Homo sapiens: one gene and its partner. Changing the gene in region 1 together with any one later gene gives a genetic interaction. Each region holds a gene or a part of one and is shown on either strand. Other genes may lie near its edges. The genes, in order: EIPR1 and RAB10.

Evidence for each region.
Region 2: changes in EIPR1 (region 1) and RAB10 are lethal when combined (synthetic lethality), as found in Homo sapiens cells (one study listed by BioGRID).

The regions. Positions count from the first base shown.
Region 1 is NC_000002.12:3,192,662-3,196,482, reverse strand, and holds part of EIPR1 (EARP and GARP complex-interacting protein 1), read left to right. Parts: intron 1-2,316; coding exon 2,317-2,484; intron 2,485-3,821. UniProt on the Homo sapiens protein: Acts as a component of endosomal retrieval machinery that is involved in protein transport from early endosomes to either recycling endosomes or the trans-Golgi network.
Region 2 is NC_000002.12:26,110,513-26,114,333, forward strand, and holds part of RAB10 (ras-related protein Rab-10), read left to right. Parts: intron 1-3,821. UniProt on the Homo sapiens protein: The small GTPases Rab are key regulators of intracellular membrane trafficking, from the formation of transport vesicles to their fusion with membranes.

The DNA of each region.
Region 1 (3,821 bases):
TGTGCCTTCTGGAGACACACCTATAGGGCAATCATATTTTGTCATTTAAGTAATTATACCCAACAGCCAGCAGCTCTAATGGAACAAATAAGAGCGAGTTTTCCGTTCCAGTTGTGATTTTGATAGGCAAAGGAGTGATGGTAGCACGTCTGTTGCTGTGGCAACGGAAGCCCACACAAGCTTTTTTAAGATACAGTTTATCCCCTCAGCACACCATAATTTATCACCGAGCTGAAAAGACGGATGTCATGCAATAACTCGTGTTGATTCCAGGGTGGGGGCACAACTTTAGGTTTAGTTCCAAGGCCCCTCTGAAAACTCAGGGGCTAATAAAGAATCACTTGCCACTTCCTCCTTTGTGCACGTCCGTGCAGAGGGCTTGTTTGGTTTCCTAATCAGAAGCTGGAAACCACAGACTCAGCCCGTGATGAACGTCCTGCTGAAATCCATTTCTCCATGTCCTGTGGTCATCGTGTCCTTTGTCTGCATGGTTTTTTGAAGGATGTGAAGAATTTCAGTATCTGAAAACAAGAAACTCAAAGACTGACGTTACAGACCAAACAAATAAGCAAACAAAAAGATGCCCGTGGCTTTGATGGGTGACATCTGGCAGTGGCCTCATTTTGCCCGTGTTGTGTCTGTGGTGAGGACGTGCCAGCGCAGCACAGAGGGTCCTGGCGCCTTCTCATTGACTGTCATTTCTCCTTTTGCAAGCAGCTTTGGTTTGCATGGAGCCAGGATGCCTTTGGTGCTTTTTTAGGTGGTATGATGCTTTTGTGTGACAGTTACTGGTGATGGAGCATGCAGTAACCTTTAGTTAATACATCGTGCACGTGCGACTGTCCATCTAGTTCCCCGGGAATTTGCCAAGTTTTAAATTTTCTACCTTTGCCTGTTTCCCTTGAAAGATTTAAAAGTTTAGGTATTATATTTTAGGGAAGAAATATTAAGATATTGCAAAGGTGCAGGATATAAAAACCAGAAGATTTAAAAGTGGTTTAGGGCCGGGAGTTCTAATGTGAGAGAAAAAGATGAAAGGAATTGAGTTCCTCTACTTTGGAGAGCAGAGAACAATGATGGTCTTCAGATAAAGGAAGCAAATTACAAGGCACAGAAGTTTCCCATTGCTCATCAGCCCCATTGAGGCCTGCGGTGAGGAAGGTAAATGATGCAGGAGTGATTTCAGTCCCGCCCACGGCAGTGCTGGGGAGGCCGTGCAGGTAGGAGCTGCTGGGCAGCGCCAGGCCATGGGTTCTTTGCTCTCCTGGGCGCAGCCTTTTGTTCCAAGCCACTGTCCAGCCTCACTGGATGACCTGCCCTCTGGGATTCATGACATCAGGGCCATAGGCAGGATATTATGACTTCAGACCCTGCGAGGAGCAGCCAAGGACCATAGGATCCAGGGCAAAGTGAGATGTGTGAGTGCGTGTGTGCGTGTCTGCCCTCTCATGCATAGATGTGTGCATGTGTGTGTACATACATGTGTGGGCGTGCACACAGATGCACGCGTGAGTGTGAGAACGCACGCACTGTGAACAGCCGTGTGACTCATTTCAAACAGTCCCCTTCTCCCACCCTGGAGCGAGTGGGTTGCACTGGCCACCAGCAGTGTTGGACCTGGAGCTGGTGTGGACAGTGGAATGGCAAGCCCAGCTGGCATGGTCCTTCCTGCTTTCATGGCCTTCCCCACTGCTCCTCCCTTTCTCTCTCTCTCTCTGTATATATCTATAGATAGATAGATAGCCGGCCCCTTCCTGCTTCCATGGCCTTCCCCACTGCCCCCCCCTTTCTCTCTCTCTCTGTATATATATAGTTCTATATATAGATAGATATTTTGTGTTGTATGTGTATGTATGTATATATATATAAAATTTCCCAACACTATATTCTACCTCAACTCCCTGTCTTTTTCTTTTCCTTCTTCACTGTGTCCTTCCAGAAATGTGTCAGGCATCCTGTCCAAATGTCTGGCTCAGTGTCCCCATGGCTGTTGCAGCCCCTCTGGCATGCTTTCATTCTCAAGATGATACCAAGTCACATTTTTGACGGCTACAAAGCAAAAATTCCTTCCACGGCTCGCCCAGAGGGTCACAGATACGCTTCTGGAGAGATGAGCGTGGTGCGACCACACAGGGTTGCTGGGATGGAGGAGGTGGCGCCAGCCTCTTCCTGCAGGGCAGGAACGCCGAGGGGATGAGAGCACCCTGGGCCGGGGGATTAGACAGGGTCCCGGGAAACCAGTGTGTGCCCGCAGCACGCAGTGGCTTTTCCTAATCCATTTACTATTTTCCTTTGCTGTTCTTCCTTCTCCCTCAGCCAGATCTACTGCATAGAGAATGCCCACGGACAGCTGGTGCGGGACCTTGACTTTAATCCCAATAAGCAGTACTACTTGGCCAGCTGCGGAGACGACTGTAAGGTGAAGTTCTGGGACACCCGAAATGTCACCGAACCCGTGAAGACCCTGGAGGAGCACTCCCACTGGTAGGGCCGCTCCTGGCTGCTTCAGGGAGGAGGGGATTACGCAATTGATTTTGCTAATTACTTTACCATTGGGAAAGACACAAACCAGCTTAGTTTGTGCTGCTGTGAATCATTCAATCAACCCAGTTTTATTTTTCCTAAAGAAACACTAATTCCAAATCTGAATGTTTGTGATTTATAAACGTAGGAAAAGAAGAAAAACATTAAATTCTGTTTTCTCTTGAAACAGTGCTGGTTCAAGTATACAAAAATAAATGTGCACAGATGTTCACGCAACATTATTTGTAATGCCAGAAACCTGGAAACCACCCAAATGTCCATCACTAGGGGACTGGTTAAGTAAATTAGGTGACATCCGTGCAGTGGAGATGATGCAGCTGTCGGGAGAATGTGGAGCATCTCTATGTGGCTGTGGGAAGATCTCTGAGGTCACTCATTCTCCCTAACATATTATTTGAATGTTTTTCATGTGCTGGGTACTTTTTGCTAAGTAAGTAAAAAGATCAAGTTGTACAATGGCATGTATAGCATGAATCCATTTTTATGCAAATAAAACGTGTGTGCACACACGGGTGTACACAAGTGTGAGTGACACAGGTATGTGGAGGAAATGTCTGAAAGAGTAAGAGCCAAAATCTCATCAGGAATCCTCCCCAAGTCAAAGAGGGGCATTCACTCCCTATGGCCTGCATCTCTGTATTGTTTGAATTACTTATCTGAAGCTGTATGTTAAAACCCCGGATTGGTAGTGCACACTTCTGATAAATTCAGTGACTTGCTGGAATTTCCTGTGGTCTGAGTGGCTGGGCCTCCCTGTGCCCCTGGCCATGCTGGGTGCACCTCCTAGCGTCAAGGGCCTGGCACTGTCTGCCACCTGGGCCCTGGAGCTTGTTTTGGCCTCAGCATGACGGGAGGCAGAAGCTCCCAGGCTCTAGGACCCACGCCAGCAAGAAAGCTGATCCCAGTAGCCAAAACCAAGGACAGCCCTTGTGCCCCGGGAGGCCGCCATGCCCTGGTCTCAGGACCCACAGTCACTGCCAACTGGGAAGATGCCGTGAGACTTGTTTGATATTACAGGATATCGCTAATCCACATGTTGCTTCTGGGACAGTATTTTTTTTTTTTTTTCGAATTTTAGAAAGCTTGTCTGAAATGTTGCGTGATAAGCCTTCTCCTCCTGTAGGTTTCAGCCAACATTTAGTCTTCCCTGTCTGTCTCTTGGGACTTAAGAGAAACCTGCAGTAAACCCAACCTCAGCGGAAAACTGCCTTATGTCAGGCCCTGTGACTGGGGGCCGATTGCCTGGCAGTGCCTAACGTGAGCCCCAGCCTAGTGGG
Region 2 (3,821 bases), about 23 Mb from region 1:
GAAATGAATTTTTTCTTAATAAATTTTTATTGAATGAATGAAATGTCCGGTAGTAATTTTTTAAAACTTTATTTTTCATGTTATAGAAATATAATATTGCTTCTAGGCATTTTGAAATATATGGAATACTAATATAGTAAAAACCTAACTAAGAAAATAGTTCCATTGCATGTGAAAATGTTGTTTTTTTTTCTGTATTTTGGGTTTTTTTGAGATAGAGTCTCACTTCATCACCCAGGCTGGAGTGCAGTGGCACAATCTTGGCTCACTGCAATCTCTGCTTTCTGGGTTCAAGTGATTCTAGTGTCTTAGTGTCTTGAGTAGCTGGAATTACAGGTGTGCACCACCACACCCGGCTAATTTTTGTATTTGTAGTAGAGATGGGGTCTCGCCATGTTGGCCAGGCTGGTCTTGAACTTCTGGCCTCAAGTGATCTGCCCACCTTGGCCTCCTGAAGTGCTAGGATTGCAGGCATGAGCCACTGCACCCAGCCTGATGTTACTTTTTATAAGTTAAAATTATGTATCAAAGCATGTCTGTTTCTTTGCTACAGCATAGGTGGCTTCTTGTTAAGAGTTGTTTTTCATGCCTTATTGCTACCTTCTAGGCTTTGAGTTTTGTTAACAGTAACTCTTTGAAGCAAATTTTGGCCAGATACACAAAGACCAAGTCTTAAACCAATATTAGACCCAAGATAATACCCCTAATGGTAGCAATCCTAAGGGCTCATTACCACTGTTTTGTTGCTACAATAAATCTTTGGGAGAAGCTTATTATTTTTTAATAATTATTTAAAGATACACAGATCTTGGCTGGGCGCGGTGGCTCACGCCTGTAATCCCAGCACTCTGGGAGGCCGAGGTGGGCGGATCACCTGAGGTCAGGAGTTCGAGACCAGCCTGACCAACATGGAGAAACCCCGTCTCTACTAAAAATACAAACTTAGCTGGGTGGGGTGGCACATGCCTGTAATCCCAGCTACTTGGGAGGCTGAGGCAGGAGAATCGCTTGAACCCAGGGGGTGGAGGTTGCAGTGAGCTGAGATCACGCACCATTGTACTCCAGCCTGGGCAACAAGAGCGAAACTCCATCTCAAAAAAAAAAAAAAATACAAATCTTAAAACAAAAAAGCTTTATTTTGATTTCCTTATTCTTTATTTTATTGTTCAGGTAAGTAGTCTGTAGTAAGAGCAGTTTAGAGATTCTGCAGTGTGTTTCCAACAACCACCAATTCTCTGATTCTACCACATGAACTGGTGTCCTGCTATTCAATGCTATTCTGACACTGACTACCCTGAATTAGTATCAGACTCCACAAGTTTAAGGACTCATTCCTACAAAATTGCCCTCACTTGAGATGCCATTTGCAAGTCCTGGGTCCCCAGGCTTACCCACATTTCTGCCTTCTGTCCAAGCTGGCTATAGATTTTGGGGATGCCAACAATGCCACTCCATGTGATCATTTGCTAGGGTGAGTCATAGAACTTAGGAAAATGCTATACTTGGGATTACAGTTTCATTATAAAGTATACAATTCAGGAACAGCCAAATGGAAGAGAGGCATATGTGGGGAGTAGCGGCAGGGCTCCAGAGCTTCCATCCCCTCTCTGGATACGCCACCTCTCCCAGCACCTTGATGTGTTCACCGAATTGGAATATTCCTTACCCTCAGTTTTTCAGATTTTTGAATTGAAGTTCCATCACTTAGGCATAATTGATTAAATCATTGACTTCTGGTGATTGAGTGTAATGTCTGTCTCCCTTCCCCTCCTAGGAGGTCAGGAAGTGGGACTGAAATTTCCAATCCTCTTATCACTTGGTTGGTTCCTCTGGAGACCAGCCCCCATTCTGAAGCTAGATAGGAGCCTTGTCATCAGTCACCTCATTAGCATAAACTCATTATAGTCAAAAGAATCTTGTTATGAATAACAAAAGACAACCCTGTCACTCAGGAAATTGGGAGGTCAGTGACAGGAACTGGGAACAAAGACCTAATATATGTTTTTATTATACCGCAGACTTAAACATCTGACATGGTAGACTGGATGGTTTGTTTCCCAAGATAAACTGAGAAACATACAACCCAGGTATCAAAAAGGAAAATTGTGGGTGTGGTGGTGTACACCTGTGGTCCCAGTTACTTGGGAGGCTGAGGCAGAAAGATTGCTTGAGCCCAAGAATTCAAGGCTGCAGTGAGCTATTATCATACCACTGTGCTTCAGCCTGGGTGACAGAGTGAGACTCTGTCTCTGAAAAAGAAAAGAAGTTATTTAAAAAGAAAATCTTGGCCAGGCGCAGTGGCTCATGCCTGTAATCCCAGCACTTTGGGAGGCTGAGGCAGGCGGATCACCTGAGGTCAGGAGTTTGAAACCAGTCTGGTCGACATGGTGAAACCCTGTCTCTATGAAAAACACAAAAAATTAGCCGGGCATGATGGTGGGCACCTGTAGTCTCAGCTACTCAGGAGGCCAAGGCAGGAGAATCACTTGAACCCAGGAGGCGGAGGAGGTTGCAGTGAGCCAAGATTGCACCACTGCACTCCATCCTGGGCAGCAGAGTGCAACTCCGTCTCAAAAAGAAAGAAAGAGGAAATCTTGTTTCTCTGGTGTATTAAAGGATTATATAACATGATCAAGAGGAACTTACCCAGGAATGCAAGGGTCAGAACCTGTCAATGTAATACACCATATTAATAGACGACAAAACCATACAGTTATCTCAGTTCACACAGAAAAAACATTTGACAAAATCCAACATTCTTTTATGATTAAAACAGTCAGCCAAACGCAGTGGCTCACACCCGTAAATCCCAGCACTTTGGGAGGCCGAGGCAAGTGGATCACCTGAGGTCAGGAGTTCGAGACCAGCCTGGCCAACATGGTGAAACCTCGTCTCTACTAAAAATACAAAAATCAGCCAGGTGTGATGGCAAACACCTGTAACCCCAGCTACTCGGGAGGCTGAGGCAGGAGAATCGCTTGAGCCCAGGAGGTGGAGGTTGCAGTAAGCCAAGATCGTGCCATTGTGCTCCAGCCTGGGCGACAGAGCAAGACTCTGTCTCAAAAAAAAGTCAACAAACTAGGAATAGCAAAGAACTTCCTTAATCCTGTAAGTGACATCTATAAAAATACCACAGCTATTATTGTACCTGTCCCCTAAGATCAAGAGCATGGCAAGAATATCTACTCTGGCCACTTCTGTTCAACATTATGCTGAGTTCCAGCCAGAGCTAAAAAAAAAAAAAAAAAGAAAGAAAGAAAAAAAGCCATCCAGAGTGAAACAACTATTTATAAATGGTAGAATATTTTATATAGAAAATCCTTAAGAACCCACAAACATATACCCAGAAAACTCTTAGAACTAATAAACAAGTTCAGCAAGGTTACAAGAAATGAGATCAACATATAAAAATCAGCTTTATTTCTGTACACTAGCAATAACCTAAAAATTACATTGAGAATAAATTTCCATTTGTAATAATATCAAAAGGCAAAAAATACTTAGGAGTAAATTTAACCAAAAGAGTGTAAGACTTGAACACAGAAAACCACAAAATATTGTTGAAAGAAATTAAAGATCTAAATAATTAGATAGCCATTATTTGTGAATTGGAAGACAATATTAAGATGGCATTACTACCCAAAGTGATCTACAGATTTAGTGCAATCCCTATCAAAATCCCAATTGCTTTTTTAAAAATTCCCCCCCGTAGAAATTGACAAATTGACCCTAAAACTAATATAGAAAGGCAAGGGACCCAGAGTAGCCAAAATAATCTTGAAAAGGAAGTACACAGTTGTAAGATTTATACTTTCTGGTTT